2 separate regions of the Homo sapiens genome follow, and region 2 is linked to region 1. The links come from fine-mapping of genetic effects on gene expression. Tissue or cell type: whole blood. Region 1 holds a variant in brackets; the other region holds the start of a gene. All regions are shown on one strand. Distances are from middle to middle.

Region 1 (8,200 bases):
TTAATTCCATAATAGTCTGAAGGCATACTTTGTATGATTTTTATCCTTTCAAATTTGTTGAGGTGTGTTATATGGTTGTTCATAGTGATGAATGTTGTTTGAACTTGAGAAGAATGCCTATTCTGTTGTTGTGGAGTACGCTATAGATGTCAATTAGATATAGCTGATTGATGGTGCTCAACTATGTCCTCAATCATTTTCTGCCTACTTGATTTGTCAGTTGCTGATAAGAGGATTGTGTCTCTGTAAGTCTATTCCTATATTTCTCACATATTTGCAGCTCTACCAGTTTTTGCTCATGTATTTTGCTGCTTTGTTCAGTGTATATACATTAAGAATTTTATGTCTTCTTGGAGAGGGTGGGCCCCCTTTATTATTATGTAATGCCCCTCTTCTTCCATGATTTTCAGTGCTCTAAAGTCTGATTTGTCTGAGATTAATATAACTACTCAAACTTTTTGATTACTGTTAACATACTATATGTACTTTTCTCCCTTTCTTCAGTTCTGTCCACTCTGTTGATGACCTCATCAAAGTCACTGTTCTCTTGTTAGTTTTTTAATGCTAGAATTTCCTTTTAATTCTTCCATTTCTTTGCTTTTATTGCCCATTTGTTCTTGCACGTTGTATACTTTTTCCATCAGAGCTCTTAGCATATTAATCATATTTTAAATTCCCAGTGTGATCACTGCAACATCCCTGCCATGTCTGAATCTGATTCTGATGCTCATTTTCTCTTCAAACTGTGCTTTTTGTCTTTCGTTTTTGTTGACTGTTGGACGTGATGTACCGGGTAAAATGAACTCGAGTGAATAGGTCTTTAGTGATGTGGTGGTAATACATGCAGTGGGGAGCATTCTATAGGTCCTGTGATTAGGCTTCTTAATAAGCCTAGGTCCCCAGACTGGACATTCACAAGTGTTTTTCAGTCTTCCTCCACCTCTCCTCACCCCCATTTAGGTAAAACAGGAAGGTTGGAGGAGGCTGGAGTTGGTTATTCCCCTTCCTCCAGTTGTCTAGGCACTGGTAAAACCCAATGCAATTAGGTTCTAGCAAAAGAGTTTACTTTGGGGCCAGGCTTACATTAAATAAAACAGAATTCTCTGGGCTTATTTCAGAATAGTTACTCTCACCTACATCTGCTAGAAGCACAAGGGGATTTTTCTGATATTCACTATGAAAACCAGGTGGGACTCTTAGAGGTAAAACTCACAAGTGTGCCTTCTCAAATCCACACAAGGCTTGGCCTCCTCTCAAGAGATTTTCTCTCAATTAGTCCATGATCAGCCTCCAGGAAGTATTCAATTACCTTTAGATATTCCTACCCAATGCTGGCTCCAGTGGTGGTTTCTGGGCAGGTGCTCCTCCAGGTAAAATATGATTTTCTGGACCTGCCTTTGTCTCCAGTTTTCAGGGTGGTAGTTTGTCCTGTGACTTCAACTCAAAGTCAGAGTTTAGTTGTTCAGCTTTTTTCTTTGTTATGATGGGAATTAAATTTTTCAAACTTTTTACATATCAAACTGGAAACCAGAAGTCCCTTATGCTTTTAAAGAAACTGCCAATTTTCCAGACGAGTTGTACCATTTACATGATACCACCACCATGTGAGATTTCATTTCTCCACATCCTGGCCAGCATTTCATACTGTCACTAATTTTTTTTTTTTTTTAGGTATTCTAATAGATGTCTAGTGATGTCAATGTAGTCTAAAATTGCATTTCCTTCATAGTGATGTCAAACATTCTTTTCAGAGCTAATTTGCTATCAGTGTATCCTCTGTAGTGAAATGTTTCTATGTTTTTTGCCCATTTTCTAATTGGATATTTTTTAACTGAGTTTACAGAGTTCTTTACTCTAGGTATGAGTCTTTTGCCAGATATGTGGTTTACATGTGTTTTCTCTGTCTATATTTTTCATCCTTTTAACAGGGCCTTTGGCAAACAAAAGCTTGTAATATTGATGTGTCAATCTGTCAAGTTTTTCTTTTATCAATATTCTTTGGTAAGAGCTATTCGGTAAGTTGAAGCCTTTCTCCTGTGGTTTTTCCTAAAAGTTTTATACTTTTATGTTTTACATTTAAATCAATGATCCTTTTTTGAGTTACTTGTTTAATGAGTGAATAATAAGTGGAGACTTTTTTTCTCTGAAATCCAATTGCTCCCCCAGATAACTATCTTATGAATCATGTCTATCACAAATTATCACTAGATAATCAACTTAATTTACTTTTTATTAAAACCAACCTGCTGAAAAGAATACAAATTTTGACTAGGAGGAGAAAGGGGGAGTGGATTTATGATTTTATGGCAATTATAACAGGAGTGTTTCAATGGAGACTTTAGGCAACTAGAACTCAGCATGAAACCAGAAGGTAGAAGCTGATAAAGGCAGGGGTAAAAAGGAGAAAATGAGTTCAAAACAACTAACTTTCGGCCAGGCGTGGTGGCTCACACCTGTAATCCCAGCAATTTGTGAGGCCGAGGTGGGCGGATCACAAGGTCAGGAGATGGAGACCATCCTGGCTAACGTGGTGAAACCCCATCTCTACTAAATACAAAAAATTAGCCGGGTGTGACAGCATGTGCCTGTAGTCCCAGCTACTCAGGATGCTGAGGCAGGAGAATGGTGTGAACCCGGGAAGCAGAGCTTGCAGTGAGCAGAGATCGTGCCCCTGCACTCCAGCCTGGGCGAACAGAGCGAGACTATGTCTCAAAACAAAACAAAAACACTAGAGGGCAATTTTGCATGCAAATTATGCTAAGGCATAATTTTTAGTATTATCTTAGTATTTCTCAAAATGTAGTCATCTATGGATTTACTGAACAAATTTGCCATATCTGCTTATAATCATACACTACTTCATAATTTTTGACAACCATAAATAATATAATTTCCTTGACATGTTAATGGTATCATTGTAATTATCATGTGATGCTTTGGAGACTGATTATCATACTATGTGAGGCATTACAAAGAAAATCAAGACTCTTAGCAGACTGTGATCATTTTTCTTTCCCTAATAGATATGAGAGAAAATTACTGCTTGATTTTACTGTGAGAATTTGGATCCAGACCTACTGTCCTCATTAGGAATCAGAAATCAGAGAATCAGAAATCAGAATGAAATATCAAAATGATGCCCTAATGGCTATTGCAAAAGGAATATGTGGGTAGTTGGAGAGTGGAATACGTGACTCTGTTTTTGGAGCAGTATTCACATTTTTTATTTCGAGGTGTAAAATATACGTGGCCAACATTGTTACTTTCATCCACAGATGGAATAGCTGGGAAGTATAAAAACCTGTACATGACCTTTAGTGAAGATTATTTGTCATCAAATTACCCATATCCAAGTTTCCATGGGCCTGGAATTTCCTTTCCACTTGATAGAAGTATATATTAGGAAGTCCAGTTAATA[A/G]TATTTTTATTTAAAAAAAAAAAAAAGGAAAAAAGAATCAGCAGAGTCAAGTTGTCTTAGTCTTAAGGCTTTCTGGATTTCTTCCTTGGAGGAGGTCAGGATCTTCCCAAGGCCTGGGTCCTCGAATATTCTTCCAGTCATCAAACTTGGAGTCTTTGATTTTCTATAGAACCACAAAAAATTAAAGTATAAATATTAGTATAAGAGCCTGTGGCTTTGATTAGGACACAACTAACTCAATGAATAAATGAGTAGAAAGTATCCGATAGGTCCTCGATTACAACTGTAGCAAATAAATCAACTACAATCATTGATGAAATGTCATCTTAAGATTTAGAACTTTTCATTTGTTACTGATGTTAATGCCTATCTTACGCCACCTTAACCGTAAAACTATTAAAATAGAGAAAGAGTCTACATGCCTTATTTTTGAGAGGACAAGGAAAAGGCTGAAGCTGGGAAAACAAAAGTACAAATCTGAAGGCTGATCCAGCACAGTGACTGAAAGGGTTATCAGGGATGATGGTAGAAAATAAGAAGAAAAGAACAAAGGGTGGAGACCCTAAAGTCTTCTACAAAAAAGAAAAGAGACCAAGATCATTTGTCTTACGCCTGGGCTTAGGAATGAAAAGACTTTCCTACAGCTATCTATCATAAGCAAAACACTTTTGGGCAACTGAAACTAACTGCAACTACATTATGGATCATCCTACCTTCATTTAGTCTGAAGTACCTCTCAAGCACAAAAATAGTTGGAATAAAAGGGAAGAAATAAATGTTTCTTCACCTTTCTCCTACTGACCACCACTCTGACATTAACTTTTACATATCTGCTGTTTTGGTTGTTCTGAAATAATTGAGTAAGATGGAAAAAAAAAGCTGTGAAAACATAGGATAGCTTATATCCAGAGACAGGGAAAATGGAATAAATTTACCTTGACACTTGGATACTAAGCATTACTCTCTTACTAACTAGCTATATAACCTTTGGAAAGTAATTTAAGCCACCTGGGCATTAACTCTCTCATAAGTAACAATGAAAAGGTTGGACCAAATACTCTACATTTGAGAGTCTTCAGCTCTCAAATTCTACAGGTCCTAGAAGAACTAGAAGGAAAATCTACTCCCAGACAAACTCTTCATAGCATCATTACTGGTATAGCACTTGTAGAACTACAAGTTAGCAAGTTACAGGATTTTTTTTTTTAATCAATGGGAAAGTAGTAAATGAAAATACTGTTCACTTATAGTTTTACCAGGAGTCTGTATTACATATATACATGAAGGAACAAAATTCAACTAATTTAGCATACAAGAAGAATTTAGATTATTTCATAAGTATAGTTATGAAATGATCTAAAGTTATTAAAAGATTTTAATAAAGAATAATGGCCATTATCCAGGTAACGTAAGATATGTATGCTTAACAGAACTGAAGAAAATTCTTAAATAACAAGTTCATGTAAAAGTAGTCTAGCCTTTACAGATCTTTGGTGAAGGAGATTCCTTGTAGAATTCTACAAAACGTGCACAGTGGCTGAAGAATGGGCTATGTAAATGTGCTGAGAAAAACCACCCAAGACATAACACTTCACAGCCAACTGGTATAGGCCTGAGTGTGGAACAGCGTCAAGAAATGCTGAGAAAAAACAGTGTCAAGAATATGGAGTTTCCAGGCCTGCCAGAGTGGAGACCTTTCTTTTAACATTTTGTTGCTACCCTGACATCCACCTAAGACACCAAAAGGACTGTTCTTCAGGAGTAAAAATTATGCCTGAGAATAAGATTTTTTTTTTTTTTTTTTTTTTTTTGAGACGGAGTCTCGTTCTGTCACCCAGGCTGGAGTGCAGTGGCGCGATAAGATTTTCTTTAGACTCACCCCAACAAAGCTTAAAGCCAAGCCTTGACAAGATTCTCTGGGGAGATAGTCTGGAGATTGAGTCCCAACAAGGGAGAAGGGCCAAGGAAAGATAGCTAGCCCTTCAACAGATACTTCCCTACAAAGCACAAAATGAAGTTTAAGGTGATTAGCTAACAATTAAATTGTCAAAATAAAAATCAACACTCTTCAGAATTTTCTTCAGTGTATTATTCACAATGACTACCTTTCAATACAAAATGACCAGACATATACAAAGAAACAGGAAAATATAATCCAGTCAAAAAAATGACAAACTCAAAGACATGAAGAACATCCTCACCACATCCCATAATATAGCGTGCTGTTAAACTCCTTGATTTTTGCTAATTAGATGGGTGAAAAGTGATACCTCGTTAGACTTTGACATTCCTATTATGATAAATTGAGCATCTCTTCATATGTTTAAGAATGATACTTATTTCCTTTTGTCCAAAAGTTTTACATGCTATGCTTTCCCATGTTCTTACTGAACAAATGAATTGTTGAACTTTTTCACATTGATTTGGAGATGGTCTTCATATTTAAGTAAATTAATGTGCCATGATAAGATTAAACTATATCTGTAGGATTTCTCATGTAATCTGTGACTTTATATACTTTTTTCATTCTTAACTTTTGAATTTGTATGTATGAACCCATTGATCTTTACTTTTAGAGCTTCTGGGTTTTATATCACATTTAAATAGGCTTTTTTGACTCAAGACAACAAACAAAATTCTCCATTTATATTCTCCTAGTACTTTCAGCATTTTGTTTTTTACTTTCAAATTCTTGATCCATCTGGAATTTATTTATTTGTAGTATATTAAGTATGGATCCATCTTTTTATTTGCTTTTCAAATGATTATAGTTTATCAAATACCATATATATTCAACGTAATTTTTTTCTGTACTACTAATACTTTTAAGGCAGATAAAACCAGTAACTGATTGTTATAAGACAGAGACTATATTAACATACCGTACCTCATATTCCGACTCTAAAGATATTTTATTCTCTTTCAGTTTTTTTTCAAGCTCAGGATCCATCTGTAGAAAAGGAAAAAAAGTAATAAGTTATCTAAGTCTGTTTGTTAGACTCAATTTTCAATTTTAAGTTATAGAAGAGATGGCTGAAATACTATAGCCAAATACAAACACATGGCAAAATCTCCACCATCTACTCTGATCACATAATGATAACTAATGTACTACTGCCAGCATTATTCAACTAAAAAGAGTTAATATCTACTGATTACTTGTTATGTGAGAGGCATTTTGACATATATTATCTTGTTTCATCCTCACAAAATCCATGAGATCTGTATTATATGTAAGGAATATGGGACACGGGGTTTGAATAACATGTCAAAGAAGCAGAGCTTGGCTTTAAGTATTAGTTCTCTGCCTCCAGAGTTCACACTATTAACCACCAATCTAAATTATATTATGGAGAAATAACAAAAATACTAATATAATGCTGCACTTGAAAACAAAAAGGAATACCTTCCATGGGCCAGAAGTAGATATCTACCAAAAAAAAAAAAAAAAAATCCATAGAGGTAAAAAGGAGCTAATGCTATATTAACTGTATAAAAAGCCTTTCTGTATGTGGCAAAGCCTTCAGGAAAAAGAGTATGATGGCTGAAATCAATAAACAACAACTACAAAAAAGCAAAGATCAAATAAGTAAAATAGAAGCATAACCAGAGGATTTCACTGGAATAATGCATGAAGAGATAAAAATGAGATGAATGAAAAAAAGTATTTTACAAAAGCTAGACCTAAAAGTTCTAACACATAGCTAGAAGTTCCAGAATTAGAAAATAAAGGGGAGGGAGAGCAATAATTAAATAAAAATAGCAAAGAATTCACCACTACATAGCAATGAGTCCTCAGACTGAAAGAACATCATAAGAAATAAGCACAACAAAACAAAAACATTTTTAATCAAAGTGAAGTTGATTAAGAGAAAAAAGAGAAGTCACAAATAAAGAGTATTTAGATGAAAAGGTCAACAGCACAAATTCTATAGGCAATAAAGAGTATAATAATATGAATAATTTTATGCCATTAATTTGAAAACTTAGATAAAATGGACAGATTAATAGAAAAATACAACTTTCCAAAACTGACAAAGGCACAATAGACAACCTGAATAGTTTTACAATCTATAAAGAATTAAATCTATAATGAATAACCTCACACAAAGAAAAGTCCAGGGTCAGATGGCTTTGCCAGTGAATTCTCCCAAGGAAGAAATAATGCCAGTGTAACAAACACTCTGTATGAATTATGTGGTAAGCATAACCCTGATATCAAATTTCACAAGAAAATAAAAATAACAGGCCAGCTTCATATATGAACACAAATGCAGAATTCTTAGTGTAAAAAGAATTCAGCAACATACCAAAAAGACAGCATACCATGATCAAGTTGAATTTATTCCAGAAAGGCGAAGTTAATTTGGAAATCACAATGTAATTTGCAAACAAACTAATGCGACAGAACAGAGAATCCTGAAGCAGACTTAAAAACTTATATGAACAGTTGATTTATGACAAATTAGGCACAGAAGAGCAGTCACGAAACAATGCGATTGTCAATATTTGATGATTGCACAATTTCTTATCTATTAAGAGAATATATTCCTCACATCACATACAAAAAAAGAAAAAAATCAATTCCACATAGAATGTAGACCCAAATATGAAAGGCAAAAATCAAAACTTATAGTAATTCACATAGAAAAATATTTATACTTTGGAGTAGGGAAAATGTTTCTTAAAAATCATAAAGTAAAAGAAGAATAAAATATATTGTATTGAACTTTTTTTCTTTGAGATGGAAATCTCACTGTCACCAGGCTGGAAAGCAGTGGC
Region 2 (8,159 bases), 33 kb after region 1:
CCTTGAGAGCTGGTTGTCAAAAAGAGCCTGCCACCTCCCTCCCCTCTCTCTTGGCATGTGATCTCTGCACATGCTGGCTCCCTTTTGCCTTCTGCCACAAGTGGAAGCAGCTTGAGGCCCGCACCAGAAGCAGATGCTGTGCCGTGCTTCACAGTATGTACAGCCTGCAGAACCATGAGCCAAAAGAAAATTCTTTCCTTTATAAATTACCCAGCCTCTAGTATTCCTTTATAGCAACAGTGGTCCCCAAACTTTCTGGCACCAGGGACCAGTTTCATGGCAGACCATTTTTCCACAGATGGTGGCGGGGGTGGGGGGTGGGATGGCAGTTTGGGGATGAAACTGTTCCACTTTAGATCATCAGACATTAGATCTCATAAGGAGCATGCAACCTAGATCCCTCACATGTGCAGTTCACAATAGGACTCGTGCTCCTATGAGAATCTAATGCCACCTCTGATCTGACAGGAGGTGGAGCTCAGGCAATAATGCCCACTCACCTACTGCTCACCTCCTACTGTGCAGCCCAGTTCCTAACAGGCCACAAACCAGTACCAGTCCGTGGCCCAGGGGTTGAGGACCCCTGCTTTCTAGCAACACAAATGGACTAAGACAAACTTGAATTTTAAAAAGGCTATGGAGAGATGCTAACACAGAGATAAATCAGAGATTAGAATTATCTGACAAAGATGACGAAGACCTCAAAGGAAACATCATAAAAATACTTCAAACAACAACAGATTTTCTTGAAACAAATGGAAAATTAGAAAATCTCGCCAAAGACATAGAAGATATAAAGAAGAACCAAAGGGTGATATCAGTGACATGGTGGAGTATCTCCAAAAATCCTTTCCTCCACAAAAACGAGAATATTTGTAAAAAATTGTCAAATAAACTTTTTTAGAACTCTGAAAATTAAGCAAAAACTTGCAACAATGTGCACAGTATTTACCTAAGAAAAATGCCTGAATCTCAGGAAGAACAGCTTGGTGGCATTTTTAATTTGTCATATTCTCACCCCTCCACCCAAGCTCCGTAACAACCATGAAAACCAACAGCCTGCAAACATGATGTAAAGCCTGGCACCAAGTGAAGAGGGTAGAGAGGTTGGAGCTCTTTAAAACACCATTCTGTGAGAAATGTCATCATTTCACCAGTCTGGTACTTCCTGGAAGATGCTATTCACAAAGCTCTCTGTAGTTTACCTGACATGGAGCTCAACTAGTATGAACAGACTTCTCCTAGGAAGCGTTTGTCAAAAAAAAAAAAAAAAAAAAAAAAAAAAAAAAATTCAGAGGTAATTGTTTAACATTATGACTGTCTGATGTGGTAGATAATAGGAATAAGGTGTCCTTAGAGGACTCTGAAAAGCTCAAATATATTCCTGAGAATTTAGAAAGTCATGCAAATAACTAGAACTGTGTACATGCCCAGAGCAATGTATATGCCCAAGAAAGACCTGAGAAGGCCCTAAATTCTCAACTTATGACTAATTTGAAGCTCTGAGCAAGTAAGAAGTGAAGGCTATACATGGAGCTGTAAATTGCATGGCTGAATGTTGAAAGCATGCCCAAAAAAGCATGCAGAGCCTCTCGACAAAGACTGGCAGATTTGTTGGTTTTGGGTTTTAAAGAAACCTCTGTCCAATAAAAGGAAACATAGTCCAATTAAAAAATGGGCAAAGGATTTGAACAGACATTTCTCCAAAAAGATATTCAAATGACCAATAAACATTTGAAAAGATGCTCAACATAATAAGTCGTTAGGGAAATGAAAATCAAAACCACAATGAGGTATCACTTCACACCTACTAGAAAGGGTAATAATTCAAAAGATGGACAATAACAAGTGTTGGCAAGGATGTGGAGAAATTGAAAATCATATCTTGCTGGTGGGAATGTAAAATGATGCAGCCACTTTGGAAAACATCTGGCACATCCTAAAAAGTTGAAGAGTTACCATATGACCTAGCAATTCCACGTCTAGGTATATTCCCTACCTGAGAGAAATGAAAACATACTTCCACACAAAGCGTGTACATAAATGTTCATAGCAGCATTATTCATAATAGTCAAAAATTGAAACAACCCAAATGTTCATCAATTGATAAAATATATCCAAACAATGGAATTATATCCATCAAAAGGAATGAAGTATTGATATATGTTACAATGTGAATGAACCTTAAAAACATTCTAAGTGGAAGAATCCAGTCACAAAAAACCCACGTTGTATTAGTGTGTTAATATGAAATGTGCAGAATAAGCAAATTTACGGGTAGAAGTAGATTAGTGGTTTACCAGGCCAGCATTAAGAGGCAGGAAGAAATGGGAAGTGACTACTATTAGTTATGATGCTTTTTTGGGGGCAATGAAAATGTTCTAAAATTGTGGTGATGGCTCCATAACTAAGAATATACTAATATACGAATATATTAGTATACTAATATCGAATTTGCTAAAAACAACAATTTTTTTTTTTTTTTTTTTTTTTGGAGAGACAGAGGTCTTGCTGGTTTGGAACTCCTGACCTAAAGCGATCCTCCTGTCTTGGCTTCCCCTAACACTGGGATTACAGGTGTGAGCCATCGTGCTTGGCCCAGATACTTCAAATGGGTGAATCTTTTGGAGATTCCTAAAATCCACATTTGATGAATGTGGATTTTTCAAAACTGTGTAAAATATCCATTACCTTTCTAAGATCACTTCTTTCCTTTAGTCTGCTTAAATGGAAAAGCTGGTAATTTCATCTGCGCCAACATTCATACAAAATAAAAATATAGTCTGTATTTAAAAGCAGCTTTTGTTCATATGCTTTAATTATTTCATTTACTAACACATCAAGGCTTGCTGAAGCAAAATAACTGGCCCGTAATCAAAAAGCAAATAAGAGTCATCTGGATTTCAACTCTGGTTGTCTTAAGCCAGCCTCAGCCTGCATTTCATGACATCCTTAGGGAACTCAGTGTGGATATGGATGAAACCATATAAACACGGAAGCTGTTTTCAACGTGCTTTAGAAATTATAACACAGCAATCATTCTGGCTACAATGTGGCAGGCACCGTACTCAACACTTTATTCACAAGGTGTTATTAGTTCATCACAACTCTAAGTATTAAGCTAATTCACAAACTAGAAAGATGAAACAGAAAGATACCAGGAATTCGTGCAGTTAAATGGAATACATCTAGTCCCAATGATCCACAGTATCGTCAAAACATAGCTAAGTTGGGGGCGAGGAAGCAAGCTTAGTAATCATCCAAACTTGGCTTAAAGTGTGGTTCTGACTGAATTCTCTGAGCTTCAATTTACTTAACTGTGAATCAAGGGTAGTAACAATGACCGCGTTCGACGATGGGAAAGACGCCACGCTCACAAGCAGACAGATCCTAGTACACCTGAAATCCAACCGGGAGTGGGGGACAGCGGCGGGGAAGTGGGGGTGTGGAAAAGACTGGTGGAAGAGCTTTTAGGAAAGCTCTCACCCCGTCGCTAGCTCCTTCCTAGCCCGAGTGCCAGCCCTTAACTTCACATTTTACAGATTCCCTCCCAGGTCTTGATCCTGCCAAGGAGGAGGGTCCCACCCCTTGCGGAAGATCCTCCTCACTCCACTCACCAACATGGGGACTCCATAGCCGAGAGTCTTGTTCTTGCGAAAAGCACGCATCACCGCGGGTGCAAACATGAGTGAACTCTTCCATCGGCTCAGAACTCCAAGCGGGCCTAGCGCAGACTCCCAAATCTCAGCAGCTCACGCTCTCACCAAGACGAGTACGTCCTTAACTCACTTCCTTTTCCTTGGTTATTTGGTGCTCGGTCCTTAGTGAATGGTTTCCGCTAGGCAAAAGCAATCGAGCCATCGTAACATACTTGTGCGTCCGCCCAGAAATGTGGGCGTCAGCGTTTTTGGTTCCGTAACGTCGGCGTGCAATTGGGATTTAGAGATTTGAATCGGTTTACGATCACCACCAAATTGATCTGGAAACCAGTACTTCCCACGTTCTGGGTCCTAACTAACGTCTGCTTAGAACACTCCCTTAGGCACATAGCCACTCGATAAAATCAGCTAAGGAAAAAAGTATTTTGAGGCCGGGCGCGGTGGCCTGGGTGGGTGGCCTGTAATCCCAGCACTTTGGGAGGCCGAGGCCGGTAGATCACCTGAGGTCAGGAGTTCTAGATCAGCCTGGTCAACATGGTAAAACCCCGTCTCTATTAAAAAAAAAAAATACAAAAATTAGCCGGGCGTGGTGGCAGGCGCCTGTAATCCCAGCTACTGGGGGGCCGAGGCAGGAGAATCGCTTGAACCCGGGAGGCGGAGGTTGCAATGAGCAGAGATCGCGCCATCGCACTCCAGCCTGGGGAACAAGAGCGAGACTTCGTCTCAAAAAGAAAAAAGAAAAAAAAGTATTTTGAAGCTGGTACTCCAGTCTTTATGGCTATTTGTGGGATGAGGAATTTGCCAGTTTAATGGAGACTTTTAAAAATAAATCGCTTTTGAAAGATTAGGTTGAAATGTAATCAGTGTAGTGTCTCATCAGTCATTACTGAACTTTTAATGCTAATGATTTTACTGTGAGATAACCTGTAATCTTTAGTCATTTATGAATGTCTATTTACCAATGATTCAGCAACCATACAGGCCACCTTTCAGCGTGTCTTTGAAAGGGTTCTAGGAACACAGATAAAAATATATGATCCTTACCTTAAAGACACTGGCGATTTCATGGGCACAGAAACAAACATGTGTGAAGTACTGGGATAGCTTAGGAAGCCGATCCCCCACGTGTCCCATTTACCAGAGTGAATCAGAGTGCAGGTGATGCGGAATATTATCTTCCATGCTATTCCTGAAATATTTCCATCTGTCCCTGCCTCTCTGTTACCACTGAAATGTTCCTTTTTTTAATTCCTTATCATCTTTTCACCTATTAAAGTAGCCTCTTAAGTGGTCTCCAGAAGAGAAGCTCCAGATCTACTGCAGGCTACTCCAGTGAAACTTATCCTTTTGGCTAAGATCAAGTGTAGTATCTGTTCTTAACAGTTTAATATTTGACACATTCTCTATCCAAGGAAAATATGTTAAATGGGTTTTTGAAGCAAGGAGATGGAATAGGAGTTTGCTCCACCACTCTACACATCAACCTGTATTTCAATACCTCCAGAAACCCAGGAACGGTGCATCTCTCCCATCTTATTTACTTCCTTTTGATATTTCAAAATTCATGCAGACCAGGCATGGTGGCTCATGCCTGTAATACCTGCAGTTTGGGAGGCTGAGGCAGGAGGATCATTTGAGCCCAGGAGTTCGAGACCAGCCTGAGCAACAAAGCAAGACCCCATCTTTACAAATAATAATAATAATAATAAATTAGCCAGGCATGGTGGGGTCTCAGCTACTTGGGAAGCTGAGGTGGGAAGATCACTTGAGCCCAGGAGGTCCAGGCTACAGTGAGCCGTGATCATGCCACTGCACTGCAGCCTGGGTGACACAGCTAGACCCTGTTTCAAAAATAAATAAATAAATCTCACGTGGCATCCAGGTTAGTTAAGCGTATCACATCTCCTACTTTCCCTAAGATCCTAGAAGCCAAAGGCGCTGCTCTAAAACTCTAGCGTTTTCCTACATCTTCACTACATAAAACATCAGCCTACTGGATACTACTCCATCAAAACCCGGCACCTAAGTAGTAGCTAATAATGGGTTAAATCGTATACATATATTCAAAATAATGCTAGAGTCGATAATCTTACACTTTTCAGATAAGGCATCTATCCAATTTAAGGCACTCTATGTCTTTAGTATCTTGTTTGTTCAATCACTCAAATAAGCATTTATTGAGAACCTTGAAATGGCCCTGAAGGAGTAACTGTGAACAGTAGGAATTACAGGTATGCCGGCAGATTGTCAGGGGACAAAATCTGTGACACTGAGGAATGTAAGCACCTATCAAATCATACTACATAGGTGGTAAATTTTACCAGCTATGCATAGCGCCCTTCTTAAGCATCACTACTGTATACTTCAGTTTTTCCATCTGTTAAATCGGAATGAGTGATATTTGTCATCAGTTTACGATTCTCACAAAAAGGGAACACAAAATTTCTTACCAGTATGGAATCTGTTGCCTTCCCAGAAATATGACTCAAATTCCATGTGTTTCCATTGTTAATAAACAGTTAAAATGCTGACTCAGCTATCTTAACTGTAAGAAGTTACAAAAAATGTATATTCAGGAAATGGGGCATCTCCACCATCTATGCCAGTCCCTGAGGACTGGTATGTACTTGATATCCAGGCAGGTTATATTATCCTCTAGTATCTGCTCTACCAGCATTTAACTCATGCAAGTACATGGGAGCGTTGTTATAAAACAAAAACAAAAACACCAGTCTTCTTGAGAGCTTTAGTCCTGAAGTTAGGTTTTAGAATTATGGCCAGAACTGGCCAGCCACAGTGGCTCATACCTGTAATCCCAGCACTTTGGGAGGCCGAGGCGGGCAGATCACCTGAGGTCAGGAGTTTGAGACCAGCCTGGCCAACATGGTGAAACCCTGTCTCTACTAAAACTACAAAAATTAGCCGGGCATGAAGGCGCATGACTGTAATCCCAGCTACTCGGGAGGCTGAGGCAGGAGAATCACTTGAACTCGGGAGGTGGAGGCTGCAATGAGCCGAGATGGTGCCACTGCACTCCAGCCTGGGCAACAGAGCAGAATTATGGCCAGAATTCATGGCTATGGTAATCGAAAGATTAGTTACTTCATGAATCTTTGTTTACTTTGATAATGCCATTGAATCTACTAATTGTTTTTTTTTTTTGAGACAGGTTCTGCTATATTGTTCAGGCTGGTCTTGAACTCCTGGGCTCAAACAATCCTCCTGCCTTGGCCTCCTAAGTAGCTGGGACTACAGGTGTGTGCTACCATGCTTGGCTTACCATCTAATTTGATTCACTCAAAAACCTTATGATAGGGGCAGAACATGATGCCAGACTCATCTTATAGGTTAACAGACTAAGGCTCAGAAAAGTTAAGAGGCAAACACAAGGTCTCACTTTGGAAGGGGTACAAATATCCCAAACAGAACTAAATTTCCTGTAGAATTGGACAATACTGACTATCTCCTTGAAATTCTCTCCTCCTGTGGCTTTTATGGAAGTTTCACTGCCATGGCTCCTCTCCAATGGTGAGACTTCTTTTTGTTGTCTTCAGACTTACAAACCTTAAACTGGAGTCCTTAGTCCCATTTTTTCCCTCTGTCTCAGTTACTCTCAAACTTTAGTGTGCACCAGAATCCCTGGGAGAGCATTAAAACAGACTGCTGGGCCCCATCACCAGAGTTTCAGATTTAGTAGATCAGGGATGGGGCCTGAAAATCTGCCCTTCTAACAAGCTTCTGGGTGATGCTGCTGGTCTGAGGACCACACTCTGACAACCACTGCTCCATCCTCTTTCCCTAGGTAAACTCCACTTTCACATTGGCTTCAAATTTTATCACAGCATGGAAGACTTCTGGTACACTTCCAGGAGCCTGAACGATTTTCTAACACCTCAAGGTCAACATGCCACCAAGGTTTATTTTAATCCTTTTCTCCATTCAATCTAATTTCTATGGCTAGAACTAGAGTAGCTAAGAGTTGGTCTAGTTCAGTCCAACTTGAAACCAGTTAAAATTGTCCTTGATATTGTTCAGCCAGAAAATCAACTGTTTCTTCTTTAATGCACTTTCTCTTATGATAGTGATCATGAACATTCCAAGTTTAGAATTATTGCTGTATTTGCCTTATTACTTTTTATGGAGTATAAGATATGGGGTAAACAGGACCATGCCTAATACATTTCTGTTTTCCATGACTTCCTTCATAGTACAAAACCACAATGCATAATTTTCTGGAAAAACAAATGAAATGACAGGAGCAGCCAGGAGTGGTAGCTCACATCTGTAATCCCAGAACTTTGAGAGGCCAAGGCGGGAGGATCACTTGAACCCAGGAGTTTGAGACCAGCCTGAGCATCAGAGCAAGACCCTATCTTAAAAAAATAATAATAATAAATAAAACAAACCAACAAACAAAAACAAGGAAATGGCAGGATCTTCCCATATCATGCTATACAGTGAAGGATGAAGAATACATGGCTCACTGCAGCCTCAACTTCC

Evidence for each region. PIP is the estimated chance that this variant, and not a neighbour inherited with it, causes the effect.
Region 2: COX16 starts here. The variant in region 1 is fine-mapped to the expression of COX16 in whole blood (INTERVAL, PIP above 0.99). The same link has a PIP of 0.9 or more in lung and tibial artery.

Annotation. Positions count from the first base shown.
Region 1 is chr14:70,322,869-70,331,068 of GRCh38, forward strand. SYNJ2BP-COX16 (SYNJ2BP-COX16 readthrough) reads right to left here. Exons shown (of 5, transcript NM_001202549.2): 4 at 6,306-6,368; 5 at 2,213-3,581. The coding sequence ends at 3,465. COX16 (cytochrome c oxidase assembly factor COX16) reads right to left here. Exons shown (of 4, transcript NM_016468.7): 3 at 6,306-6,368; 4 at 2,213-3,581. The coding sequence ends at 3,465. Among named protein-coding and RNA genes, the nearest start is that of COX16, 33 kb to the right of the region's middle. The variant A/G (reference allele first, on the strand shown) is at 3,419.
Region 2 is chr14:70,355,902-70,364,060 of GRCh38, forward strand. COX16 (cytochrome c oxidase assembly factor COX16) reads right to left here and starts at 3,782. Exons shown (of 4, transcript NM_016468.7): 1 at 3,618-3,782. The coding sequence starts at 3,686. All of the region lies in intron 3 of SYNJ2BP-COX16 (SYNJ2BP-COX16 readthrough), which reads right to left. It also overlaps the pseudogene RNU2-51P. RefSeq lists enhancers at 3,502-3,811, 4,272-4,361.